Homo sapiens: one gene and its partner. The protein of the gene in region 1 purifies or fractionates together with the protein of each later gene. This does not show direct contact. Each region holds a gene or a part of one and is shown on either strand. Other genes may lie near its edges.

What was found. The genes of interacting proteins can lie anywhere in the genome.
Region 2: the proteins of VPS45 (region 1) and VTI1A purify together in Homo sapiens (affinity purification with mass spectrometry; 2 studies listed by BioGRID and IntAct, with this or other methods). This does not show direct contact.

Annotation. Positions count from the first base shown.
Region 1 is NC_000001.11:150,091,752-150,098,783, reverse strand, and holds part of VPS45 (vacuolar protein sorting-associated protein 45), read right to left. Parts: intron 6,848-7,032; coding exon 6,689-6,847; intron 6,483-6,688; coding exon 6,375-6,482; intron 5,258-6,374; coding exon 5,136-5,257; intron 1-5,135. UniProt on the Homo sapiens protein: May play a role in vesicle-mediated protein trafficking from the Golgi stack through the trans-Golgi network.
Region 2 is NC_000010.11:112,814,209-112,819,270, reverse strand, and holds the end of VTI1A (vesicle transport through interaction with t-SNAREs homolog 1A), read right to left. Parts: intron 3,982-5,062; coding exon 3,888-3,981; 3' UTR 527-3,887; downstream 1-526. UniProt on the Homo sapiens protein: V-SNARE that mediates vesicle transport pathways through interactions with t-SNAREs on the target membrane. These interactions are proposed to mediate aspects of the specificity of vesicle trafficking and to promote fusion of the lipid bilayers.

The DNA of each region.
Region 1 (7,032 bases):
AAATCCAATTTGTGGATATAGCTATACTGCCAAACAGCTTAAACACTAATTTAACAGCTAAGGGCTAAAAAAATTTCCACCAGTGTTCTGGTTTTGCAAAGTTGTGTTCTTGCCACATTTCCTTTGATATTTTCTATTATTATAGCAACAATAAAACCTAGAATTTCTATTATGATGAGACAAATAATAATAAATACCACTATAATCAAGGACTCTTTTCAATATGATAATACAGGGCCAAGAAAGTGGCTAGAGCTGATAGTGTGGCCAAGTGAATACAGAGCCAGAATGTTTTAAAGGGTTGTTTATGAACTTCAAAAATCTAAATTTTGTATAGCATCAATTAAGTTTATTCTCTGGTTTAAATTTTCCAACTATAAATATTGGCATATCAACTAGAAGAGATGCCTATAGAATTTACCAAACATCTATTGAACACCTATTATTTGTAAATCACTGTGTTAAACATTGTGAAAACCCCAAAGATTAACAAAACATAATACTTACTTCAAGATTACAATACCTAATACAATAACTAATAGGAAGGATAGATATGTAACTAACTACTGTCTCAATATCCAGAGGTAACGACTATTAACAACTTCTTGATTATTCTTTCAGAAATAATTACTGTAGGCAGGGCATGGTGGCTCATGCCAGTAATCCAAGCACTTTGGGAGGCTGAGGCAGGCAGATTGCTTGAGCTCAGGAGTTTGAGACAAGCCTAGGCAACATAGCAAAACCTTGTCTCTATAAAAATGCAAAAATTAGCTAGGTACTGTGGCATGTGCCTGTAGCCCCAGCTACTTAGGAGAATGAGGTGGGATGGCTTAAGCCCAAAAGGTGGAGGCTGCAGTGAGCTGAAATCACGCCACCACTCTCCAGTCTGGGCTACAGAGCCAGACCCTGTCTCAAAAAAACAAACAAACAAACAAAAAGAGTTACTGTATTTATACATATATGTGCTTGTGAAAATATATTATATATATAATATACATACATATGTATAGTCAAGCACATATTTATATACATGTACACTTTTTTTGTTTTGTTTTGTTTTGTTTTGAGACGGAGCCTTGCTCTATCACCCAGGCTGGTGTGTAATGGCATAATCTCGGCTCACTGCAACCTCCACCTCCCTGGTTCAAGCGATTCTCCTGACTCAGCCTCCTGAGTAGCTGGGACTACAGGTGCATGCCACCACGCCTGGCTAATTTTTGCATTTTTAGTAGAGACAGGGTTTCACCATGTTGGCCAGGCTGGTCTCAAACTCCTGACCTCAAAGAATCTGCCCGCTCGGCCTCCCAAAGTGCTGGGATTATAGGCATAAACCACTGCACCCAGGATTATACAGTTTTTTTACCTGAAAGAAATGTTATGGCTGGGCACAGTGGCTCATGCCTGCAATCCCAGCACTTTGGGAGGCCGAGGCGGGCGGATCACGAGGTGAGGCGGGCGGATCACGAGGTCAGGAGTTCGAGACCAGCCTGACCAACATGGTGAGACCCCATCTCTACTAAAAATACAAAAATTAGCCAGGCATGGTGGCATGCACCTGTAATCCCAGCTACTCAGGAGGCTGAGGCAGGAGAATCTTGAACCCAGGAGGCGGGGATTGCAGTGAGCCGAGATGGCACCACTGCACTCCAGCCTGGGTGACAGAGCAAGACTCTGTCTCAAAAAAAAAAAAAAAGAAAGAAATGTTACAACATCCTGCTTTTCTATCTAATATATCTTAAAAAGCTTTGCATATCACCCGTGAGGAGTTATGTCATTTAAAAAAAAAAGAATACGTAATATTGTACTGTAGTTTAGGTAACCAGCCCTCTATTAATAGATATTTAGCTTGTTCCTAGTTTTTTTGCTATTACTTCAGTGAACATCCTGGCTTAAGTATCTTTGTGTACTTGCACAGGAATATCTATACAGTAAGCTTTTAGAAGTAGAATTGGTAAATAAGAGTATTTTCAAGTCCTTTGCAGTATTCCTTCTGTTAGGCATGGCCAGGAGGTGGTATAGGTATGTTCTGTGACACCCACTGTAGTTTTGTAACCATTTCTTTGCCTTCTTCCTTCAAAATTTCCACTATCTTAGAAGCTCATAATGTAGCTGCACCGTTTTCTCCTGACCTCCTTTCCTGGTCACTTTTATTCCATGAAGACTTTAGCTCTGGCTTATTTGTCCTCCTTTTTCTCCTTCTCTTTTCAAGATTGTCAGTGACTTTAACATCACTGTGGATTACTCATCTAACATCCTGGTCTCCTTACCAATCCTGATCTTTTCTTTTACCCACTACAACCACCCACATCCATGCTTACAATCTAAACTTCTTCGTTACAAGTATCTGAACCCCCTATGAAATCTTGAATTCAAAATATCTTTATCCAATAACTACCTCTCAACTTCCAATTTACCTGTACTAATACTCTTCTGTAATAATTCTTTGGCCTCATCAAATCTCCAATTCATTCACCAATACCTTTGTCATGATCCAATACACTCTCCTCTTGTTTCCATTTCCCCAACTAGTTGCCTTTTCCATGTTTAATCTGGAGCAGTTCAACATTTCCAGAGGTTTTAATATTACTAATGTTTTTGTCAACTCTCAATATGTGACATTTCTACTTGTTATCTAATAGACATCTCCAACTGAACAACAAAACTCTGTTTCTCCTCAAAGCCTGAGAGTTATTCTTGACTTCTCTCTTACCCTTGTTCCATAAATCTGTGCCATTAAATATGACTATTGATTCTGGCTTCTCTCTCAGCCTCCTACCCAAACCACTTCCATTTCTCACCTGGACTACTGCATTCATCTCCTCAGTAGTCTCTCTGCTTCTATTTTTGCCTTCAATAATCCATTCTTACCACAAATATCTTTTAAAACACAATTAAGTTCATGTTACTCATATGCTTAACTCTTCAATGGCTTCCTATGACATTAAAAAAAAATCTCTTTACTAGGGTCTTCGAGAACCGATGTGATCCAACCCTACCTATCTTTCAACCTCTTATTTCCTCCTTATTCACTATGCTCCAGCCAAGCAGGGCTCCCTTCTGTTCCATTAACTTGCCAAATTCTCTCTTTCTTCAAGACCTTTGCTCTGGTGTTTCCCTCTGCTTTGGATGCTTTCTCTCCTAATCATAGTGTGATTGCTTTTTTTTTTTTGAGATGGGGTCTCACTCTGTTGCCCAGGCTCGAGTGCAACGGTGCAAATTTCAGCTCACTGCAACCTCCGCCTCCCAGGTTCAAGCGATTCTTCTACCTCAGCCTCCTGAGTAGCTGGGATTACAGGCGCCTGCTACCCACGCCAGGCTAATTTTTGTAGTTTTAGTAGAGACAGGGTTTTGCCATGTTGGCCAGCCTGGTTCAAACTACTGACCTCAGGTGATCCTCCCGCTTTGGCCGCCCAAAGTGTTGGGATTACAGGCGTGAGCCACCGTGTCTGGTCTGGTTCTTTCTTATGACTCAAAGCTCATCTTAAATATCACCTCTCAGAGAGGTTCTCTCTCCATCTAAAGTAGTCCTCCCCACCCCTACAATTACTTTGAAGCTCATCACCCTATTTATTTCCTGGATAGCACTTATTAAAATTATATTCTTCATTTGTTTACTTGTTTACTCATTGTCTCTATGTAAGTTCTTTGAGGGCGGGTACCTTGTCTTTCCTGTCACTTCTATATCGCCAGCATCTACAACAGCTCTTAACATACTGAAAGCATTCAATCAACATCTGTTGTGTAAAAGGACAAAGCAACTGAATTATTAACTATATGCATACTTAGGTTATAGTGACAAATGGTAACAGATGTTGACAACTGATAAATGTGCATTTTGTTCAAGGAATATAATTTTGAGCTTTGTGTGGGAATGAATTATGTAAATTAGAAAGGTTTCCTGCTGTGTACTGATCATATACAGTATATTCTTCCGGTGGCCTGTGGTTTCCCTTTGGTAATAAATAATTCCTTGTTCAGTAATTCTTATAAAAATTCATAAGCAAATAAATGTTTTTATTTATCACATTAATGCAAAAGCTCAAGAATAGTTGTTTTTTAAAAAGCCTCTCAGATAGGTGCATAACTTTGGGCTGGCGTTCATTCTTCCCACTTAGCTGACATTTCTGAATCTTGATCCCAAGGTCTTTAAACATTTTATCTGAATGAGTGTACTCTCTGAATTTAACACCAAATGTTCTGCATCTCAACCTTGGACTTTTAAAAGATGATTTTTTTTTCTGTTCTGTACCAAATTACAGAAAAAAATTTTTTAAAGGACAAAGTGAAAAAATACACTTTATCACATAAAAGAATCACCTATGTATCTCAAAACATTTTTCTCATTCAGAATCTCATTATGTTTATAAAACACTATACTTCCAAGGCTCTTAGATGTTTATTAACTGAAATAATAGAAGAATTATGTCAACAGTAAAATTTTCACATTAATCTATCCAATAGGATTCAAGTATATATGTTAGCCCCTTAGATAACATGTGTTCCAACAAAAAAAATATATAATTTTTAACTAGGTAGAATTTATGTATACAGTATTTAAAATTTCAGGTTGGCCTAAATAAGTTGTTCTGGACAAGTTTTGTTTTTATTAAAAATTAACCACTGGATTAAGATGACAATTATTGCTTCCTTTAGTTAATACTCAAAAAGAAAGCCATCCTTTGCTCCTGTGTAACAAATGGCCTTTATTAATTAGGTCTCTCAGTTTGTGTGCTGGCAACATTTGGCAAAGTCCAGTCCTCACCAAAAATAGTAACAACCTGCTCTGGATGGCAATCAAGCAGCAAGCCTATTTTTGGCCTCAATGTTTGAAACACCAAATGCCAGATGCCATCGAACAGAACCTTAAATGGCATAAGTAAACTGGTCTGATACTGAAATACAGAAGGATTTGAGGCTCTCCAAAACACTTGTTTCTTTAGTACAAAAGAAATAAATGTTTCAGACTTAGCAGGGGAATTCATATCTAATGCTGACATATGTAAAACCAAAAGAATCTTAACAGAAGAAAGGAGCAGCAGAATGCTATAACCTCAGCTTTAGTCCTTAACATTACTCTAAATTTTCTGTTTGTTCAGTATTTCTGGCTTTTATTATTAATATCTTTGTTAGCTTACCTGTCTCTGAGTGTGCTGGGGCCTAAATAAGGATATAGGTTTTCCTTAAGCCTTCCTTTGATGAGATGATCCAGGGTTTCATGTAGGAAAGGTTGATGCTGTGTATATACATTTTCTACTCCCTAAAACAGGGGAAAATGGTTCTTATGTCATTTTTGGGAAATTGGCAACACAAGAATTAATAATATTCATATCAGAAAAGGACATACACTCAATAGAGATTTCATGGGATAGATTTACGTAACTGTGGGAAATTTAAAAATTATTTTAATCAGCTAGAAATGTTCTAATCTCATAAAAATTACTCTGTAATTTAGGGCTAGTTATTGTAAAGGATTTTTTAAAAATGGAATTGCTTAAATCCTTAATCATGTCTTCACTGTCTCTCACCCTTTTGTGAAATGTTAAATGATAGGTAGAGCAAATAAAAGGAAAGGATTATGTATAAAAAAGACTGAAAATACCCAGGAAAATAGAAAAACTTCAGGAAACATAAGAAAGGCTGCCGGGCGCGGTGGCTCACGCCTGTAATCCCAGCACTTTGGGAGGCCGAGGCGGGCAGATCACAAGGTCAGGAGTTCGAGACCATCCTGGCTAACACGGTGAAACCCCATCTCTACTAAAAATACAAAAAAAAATTAGCCGGGTGTAGGTGGTGTATGCCTGTAGTCCCAGCTACTCGAGAGGCTGAGGCAGGAGAATGGCGTAAAACCCGGGAGGCAGAGCTTGCAGTGAGCCGAGATCACGCCACTGCACTCCAGCCTGGGAGACAGAGCGAGACTCCGTCTCAAAAAAAAAAAAAAAAAAAAAAGAAAGGCTAGCAGATTAGAATTAATTTTTGAGTATTTTAAGAAAACAGGTTAGTATTTTTAAAAGATCAAAAGTTTGCTTCATCTTTAATTTCCTTCAAAGAGAAACTACCTAAAAAATCTTTAATTATAAACAAATGGTGTAAAATATCTGTGACTAACAGAACTGTTGGTCTTTTTCTTCTTATTTCCTGGAAATACCTCCAGTTATTTCCTGCTAAGCTATTTGGTCCAATGTTGATACGGCTCTAAGACAGAAAGCACTAAAAGAAAAAGCTTTCAAGAGGATGCCAGTTTTAATTTCATTTAACTGACACAGTACTAAATTAGCAGCAATCTTCAAGATACTTTGAAGATCATATTCATTCACTCTCAGCCTCAAGGACTTCAACTGTTCTCACTCAGGAGAGCATAGAGGAGATGTCTATACCTTCAGTCCTTTGAGGAATTGTTTGGTGATAGCCACAGCATCTTTGGGGCTGAAGAGGTCACTTCCTCTGACTCGTTTACCACCATATTCAACAACTGCAGACACGAGCTATTAAGAAAGAGAAGCAAATTTTGATTGCTTAGGCATCAGGAAGCCCATTTCATAAGAAAATAATTTTATTAAGGAAACAAAAATGAAAAGACAGAATTATACATTTCTGTAAATAAAAATAGTATGATTTATCATTCGTTAGAGCTAAGAATATAATAACAGAGTTGGTTCCTGTTTGGTGGGCTAATATGGAAACTGGTTACCTTTCGATACTTCTCAGAAACACCTTTATTCCTGAGGTCCATCATTAGTCCTGGCAGGCTATTGCTGCTGTGTCGCTCATAATGTAAAGCATAAAGCATCACCAGGCGGGCAGCATCAAACTCTGTCACTTTGGGGTTCTGCAGAAGCCTTTTTATATTCTGAAGAAAGATAGAACTTATATTTATCCCCCTTTCACTTGAGTCATCTGTTGTACAATGCCTTAGATCTAATAATTATTGAATGGTAGTGATACATCACTACTATGACAATTATAAGTCATACATTTAGCAACTGTCTCAACTATAGAAAATTAAATGCCTTTTGTCCAAGGTAAGAATTAAAT
Region 2 (5,062 bases), on another chromosome or scaffold:
GCAGTTCAAACCAAAGGGATGAGGAAATCATCACTCCTAGTTAATTCTCCACTACGTAGACAAACTGCTATTAATATTTACGATGGGAAATTTCATTATTTAAAAATTCTGCCCTAAATTTCCAGCTCACTCCATGAAGAACGCCTGCTGAACAGGTTGCAAATTAAGAACAATTATTTTTCTCTTCTGCATTTGAATACAACTTACAGCTAAAGTCATTTAAAGGGGTTAACATCAACCTTAATTAAATATTAAAGTGTGCCTGTACCTGCTGCTATTGTTGCCCCTTCGAATAAGATATAACCTATTTTTGACAAGTTTTCATCTTTCTCTGTGGAAGACGCTACATGAAACCAAATCAGTGGCAAAGAGGAGAGTAATGAATAATCTATTTCATATTCCAACAGTACCCAGAGCTCGGAGTGGAAAAATATTCAGTCAGATGATGGCAAGAGGCTGCTTGGGGTACCACATGACACAGCTAATGTTTAAATAATAATAATAAAAAAAAGCGATAAACAAATCATTAGCCCTTAACAGTTGTTTAATGCAATTTGTTAATGAACGTAATGGTGGGGACTAATAATGAAAGAAAATAAAAACGTCTAAACAGGCGCCAAGTTGCTGGCAATGCGCAATTATTTCCTTGTCAAGTTTTTATGATTTAATGAGCCCCTCTGGGACTGACGGCTGTCAGTCAGTCGTGACTTTTTGACACCATTACAACTTCAAATACAGCAGCAGGCAGGCTGTTTTCCTCGGATTTGAAATACTGAAATGATCTGACAGTTTTAAAGAAAAGATGTGCAAAAAAAAAGGAGAAAGAGAGGGAGAGAAAGACAGTTGCTTTTCCTTTCTTTCTTTTTTTTCCCCTCCCTTCTTCTATGGGTTGATAATCTCTGGATGCTGTTTGGTAATGAAAACCCAATCACTGAGGTCATTATCTGATGAGGTTTTTGGAACAGGCAGGCTTTTTTCCCCCTCTTTATTTCTTTACTTAATGATAACCCTCAATGGGCTTGCCCCGCATGGGATGGCCAGAGCCGCACAATTTTGTTCACCATTAATTTCAGCCTTTGAAGCTCAGGGCTCAGAAGCAGTAGCAAAGCAAACCCCCCACCAAGCTGGTTCCAAAATAAGACAATCCAGCCTGCCTTAAACAGAATAGCAAATGGCCTCCCAGCCCAGGCCCGGCAGCTGACGTCAGACCCACTGCATTTGCAGGCATTCGCCTTCAACACGGATCATTTAAAACTCTTTACAACTTAAGAGACTTTAATTAAATTGCTTTTGATTCTGGAGTGGGGTAGCATCCACTTTATTTATTCTGTCAGGGAAACTGTTTAGTCTGCATGAATTTTATATGGCAAGGGCTTCCTTCTCTTCTTCCTCCTCCATGCCTTCATCTTCCCCCCAACCACTCCCTTAAACATCATTTTTAACAAGGGCTCCCAACTTGAGAAATATTCGTCAAAGTCTACACACTAAGTACCTAGAACCTCTCACAGATCTACTTCACTATCTGCTTCAAGTCTGTGGACGTTATTCCTTTCCTGGTGGGGCAGGGAAGGAAGGAGAGCAATTGGCCTCTGCTGGGGATCCCCTAAGTCTTTTCTGCAGTGTCCAGGAGGACCAGGAAGGAGTTGAGGGAACCTTCTGACCAGCTTCCTCACAAAGCACTCACTAGCCTGGCCTAGGTAGTTGCTCTCAAGGAGGTTTGATGGAGCTGTTAGGCCAAGGGTTATCTGTTCATATTCTTCCCACTCCCAAGGTTGAATTGGGGTAAAATCACAGGCAAGAGCTGATAAAGACATAGAACTTGAACGAAAAAAGCTATTGAGAGGTGAGCAATGCCCTCCTCCTTTCTCATTTTGTCTGCTTCAACATGAACGCCAGGATTCAGTGAAATATTCAGGAGGCGGCCAGTTTAGATGATCCGATCAACCTTGCTTGCTAGGTGGCCTTGGGAAGAGTCTGCTGCATTGTGGACGGGATGGCCGTGCGAAGTGCAGCTGGTAACTGGTTATACACTTTAGCTAAGATCAACAGTTTTGAAGGAAGCCACCAGAGGGGCTGGTGTAATACTCGATGACTATTCGTGTGTCGGAATGAGAAAAGGGTTGTTTGTTTGTTTCCTTGCTTTTTAATGGTTCTTAGATGTGGTCAGCACGTACAGCATTCCGTTATCAGAATACAAGATTCTTGCTGAGACGGATCCCTTAAGCTGACAGGAAAATTAGCATAGCTTCCTGCTCCTTCTCTGTCCTGCTTCCCTCGGCCAAAATCCCACACCATCCCTCCGAAGTAAAGGCTGCAGCTTTATTTACACAATACTAAATGATTTATCCGAACACATGCAGGCCTTGGCCTGTTTCGATAAGTGCAATTTCTCTGGTGGATTCTGCCATTCTGCATTTCCTCTCTAAACCATAATGGTTTTCTTCTGAGTTGGGAAAAATATCAAGCACTACATCCAGGTGATATTGATCCACGGGCACAGGTGGTTAGCATTTTTGATGAAGAGAACAGGTTTGCTTTTCAAGGATTCAAAGCTTCTAATTATATTCCAAAGATAGTACGGACCAGTAAGTGCCTATGAAGTCTTGAGAAAAACATTCTGCTTTGTGACTGGGGGGAAACGACCTCAGCTTGGGCAACTTTTAAGCCTGATCACAAATGAGCTCATTTTGAACGCAATTCCTGGTTACCTCAGACAGAAAGAAATGAAAGAAAAAAATCACAAAGCATATTAGAAGTTTGAATACATAGTGAATTCAAGAAAGGCTTGCTAACATTTGTTAGTTAAAAACCCAAGCCATTCCTTTTGGAACAATCTGCCATCCTCTATTCTTTTAAAGGAGGTTAGGGAACGTTTTCCGTGAAGTTTATCTCTGGTGGACCCTCCTATAGGACTCTCCCATATTTATAATCACATTTGAAATTTCACACTGATGGAGTCATGTTCTTGCTCTTACTGAAATATTCATGGTCTCTTTACATACTGGAATGTATGTGGAGAGAACCTTGTCAGACCTTTTGCAAGTATGAGGACTGCTTTTGGCAGTGCAGATATTAAAACCGAAAGGATACAGAGATGCTTACACAGGTCAGGGAAGACGAGGTCACAATTAAATCCTGTACCAGGGCTCACTTTGCCAGCAGATTCTGGGGAGTATGGGATTTGGGGAAGGCAAGAAAATATTTCTTGTAGCCAGTAATCAAAGTTGTGAACAGTGAATACTGGGCAGGCTCAGCAAAAAAAATATCTTTGGGTTAAAAAAAAAATTATGCAATAGAAAAACAGGGAAAGTGCTAAGTCAATTTCCTGTACAACCGACATTAAATACCGACCTTTACAATGAAAGCACTCAGGCAGGTTGATGACTATATTCATGAGGCCTGTGTAGGAACAGGGCTGGCTTGCTGGACGGGGTCACTGACTCCATCCCCTGCTTTTTGCTGCATTTTTATCCTCAGACATCACAGAAGAGCTTTTCAGCAACAAGAGGCGGGTGACAAACAGAAGCTCTCGTGACTGACTCATCATGTCCTCTCCCAAACCACGGCCCTTGACACGTCCAGAGGGCTAGGAGTGTCACTGGGGCTATTTTGGCTAGTTGATGACATTAGCAAAAAGGTAAATAAACATTCACCTTCCCCTCTAAAAAACGAATCTGGGTGAAGACAAACCTCGAAAAGGAAACCAACCCACATGCAAACAGGAATAGAAAATATTTTTACACTCTTTGCACTTCAGCCCAACGGCGGTGAGGGAGAGAGAGGGTCACCTGGGGCCTGTCAGCGCAACAGAATGATTCATGTGACCATTTTGTCTTAATTACTCAGAACAAGCTGTTGTTGCTGTTTATCAAGGGAGAGCAGATACATCAGTGTCTTCTGACAGAAAAAGTGATCGCCATCAGGATGGTGATGACCACGATGATCCCTAGGATGACGAGCAGGATGCGGTTCTGGATGATTCTAGGAGACAGCAAAGGAGAAAAAACACACACAGATAAGTGGAAGGCCTTCCCACAAACGCCGTCCGAGGCCAGGTTGGCTAATCAAACGGCAGCTTTGCAGGTGGGGGTGGGGAGCGTGTGTGTGTGTGTGTGTGTGTGTGTGTGTGTGCGCGCGCGAAAGAGACATCACGCAGCTTTCTGGTTCTACAAACGATCCACGAGGAAACGAAAGGCTCCACATGATTGTCACGCTGCCCTCCGAGAAATGCTTACTGCAAAGCTAAGGCGAATCAAATGGCTTTCGAGGCTCAGAAAATCATGTAGCCTCTTTAAGTGATCAAGGGCCCCTTGCGAGCTTCTCTTTCTAATTTAAAAGGCGAGACAAGCCTCATTTTTTGCAGTGTTTCCTGTTAAAGTAAAATACTCCAAGGAAACACATGTCAGCAATGTACTTACCTGCACAAAAATACCTGGGGAAAAGTAAAACAGAGACTAAGGAAGAAAAGGATGGGATTAAGAAACAAGTGTCAAATGTGCAGCTTAGGCTGTGAAACCATCATCTGTCAGTGTGGCTCACGCTCCGTTACGCTAGGAGGAAACGTTACATTTGCTCCATAGCAAAAAAGATGGAAATGAGAAATATACAATGTACTCAAGGTGCCTGTTGTGCGTCTGTTGCTGGGCCTTTACCTCCAGGGATTCTACCTCCCTGGGTTCTGGCTGGGCTGCACGCTGATGGGGAACCAGCAACTTAGAAGGGGGACCAGAGTGGAGACACACGCTCCCAGATGCCTGCAGAGAGCTTCTGATGAGGTTGTTTCATAATTTGTTACCTCATTCGGAGAAAAGAGGTCGAACATCAGAATGCTTTGTTGAGAGTTTCAAAGGGAACCTAGGTCAAACAGCCGTGCCCACGCTCGCTCTCACAGAGCTGCACGGAAATAGAGACATGAGCTGGCTGGCAGTCTAGCCAGCTATCTGTCCAGCTTAAAACCCCACGGCAAACCCCATCCAACCCTCCTCCAAATACCAAGCAGCAAAAGGCCTGCTGCCCTACTCCAGTCACCAAACACTGGACATGGGTCTTCCATGGGGAGGAG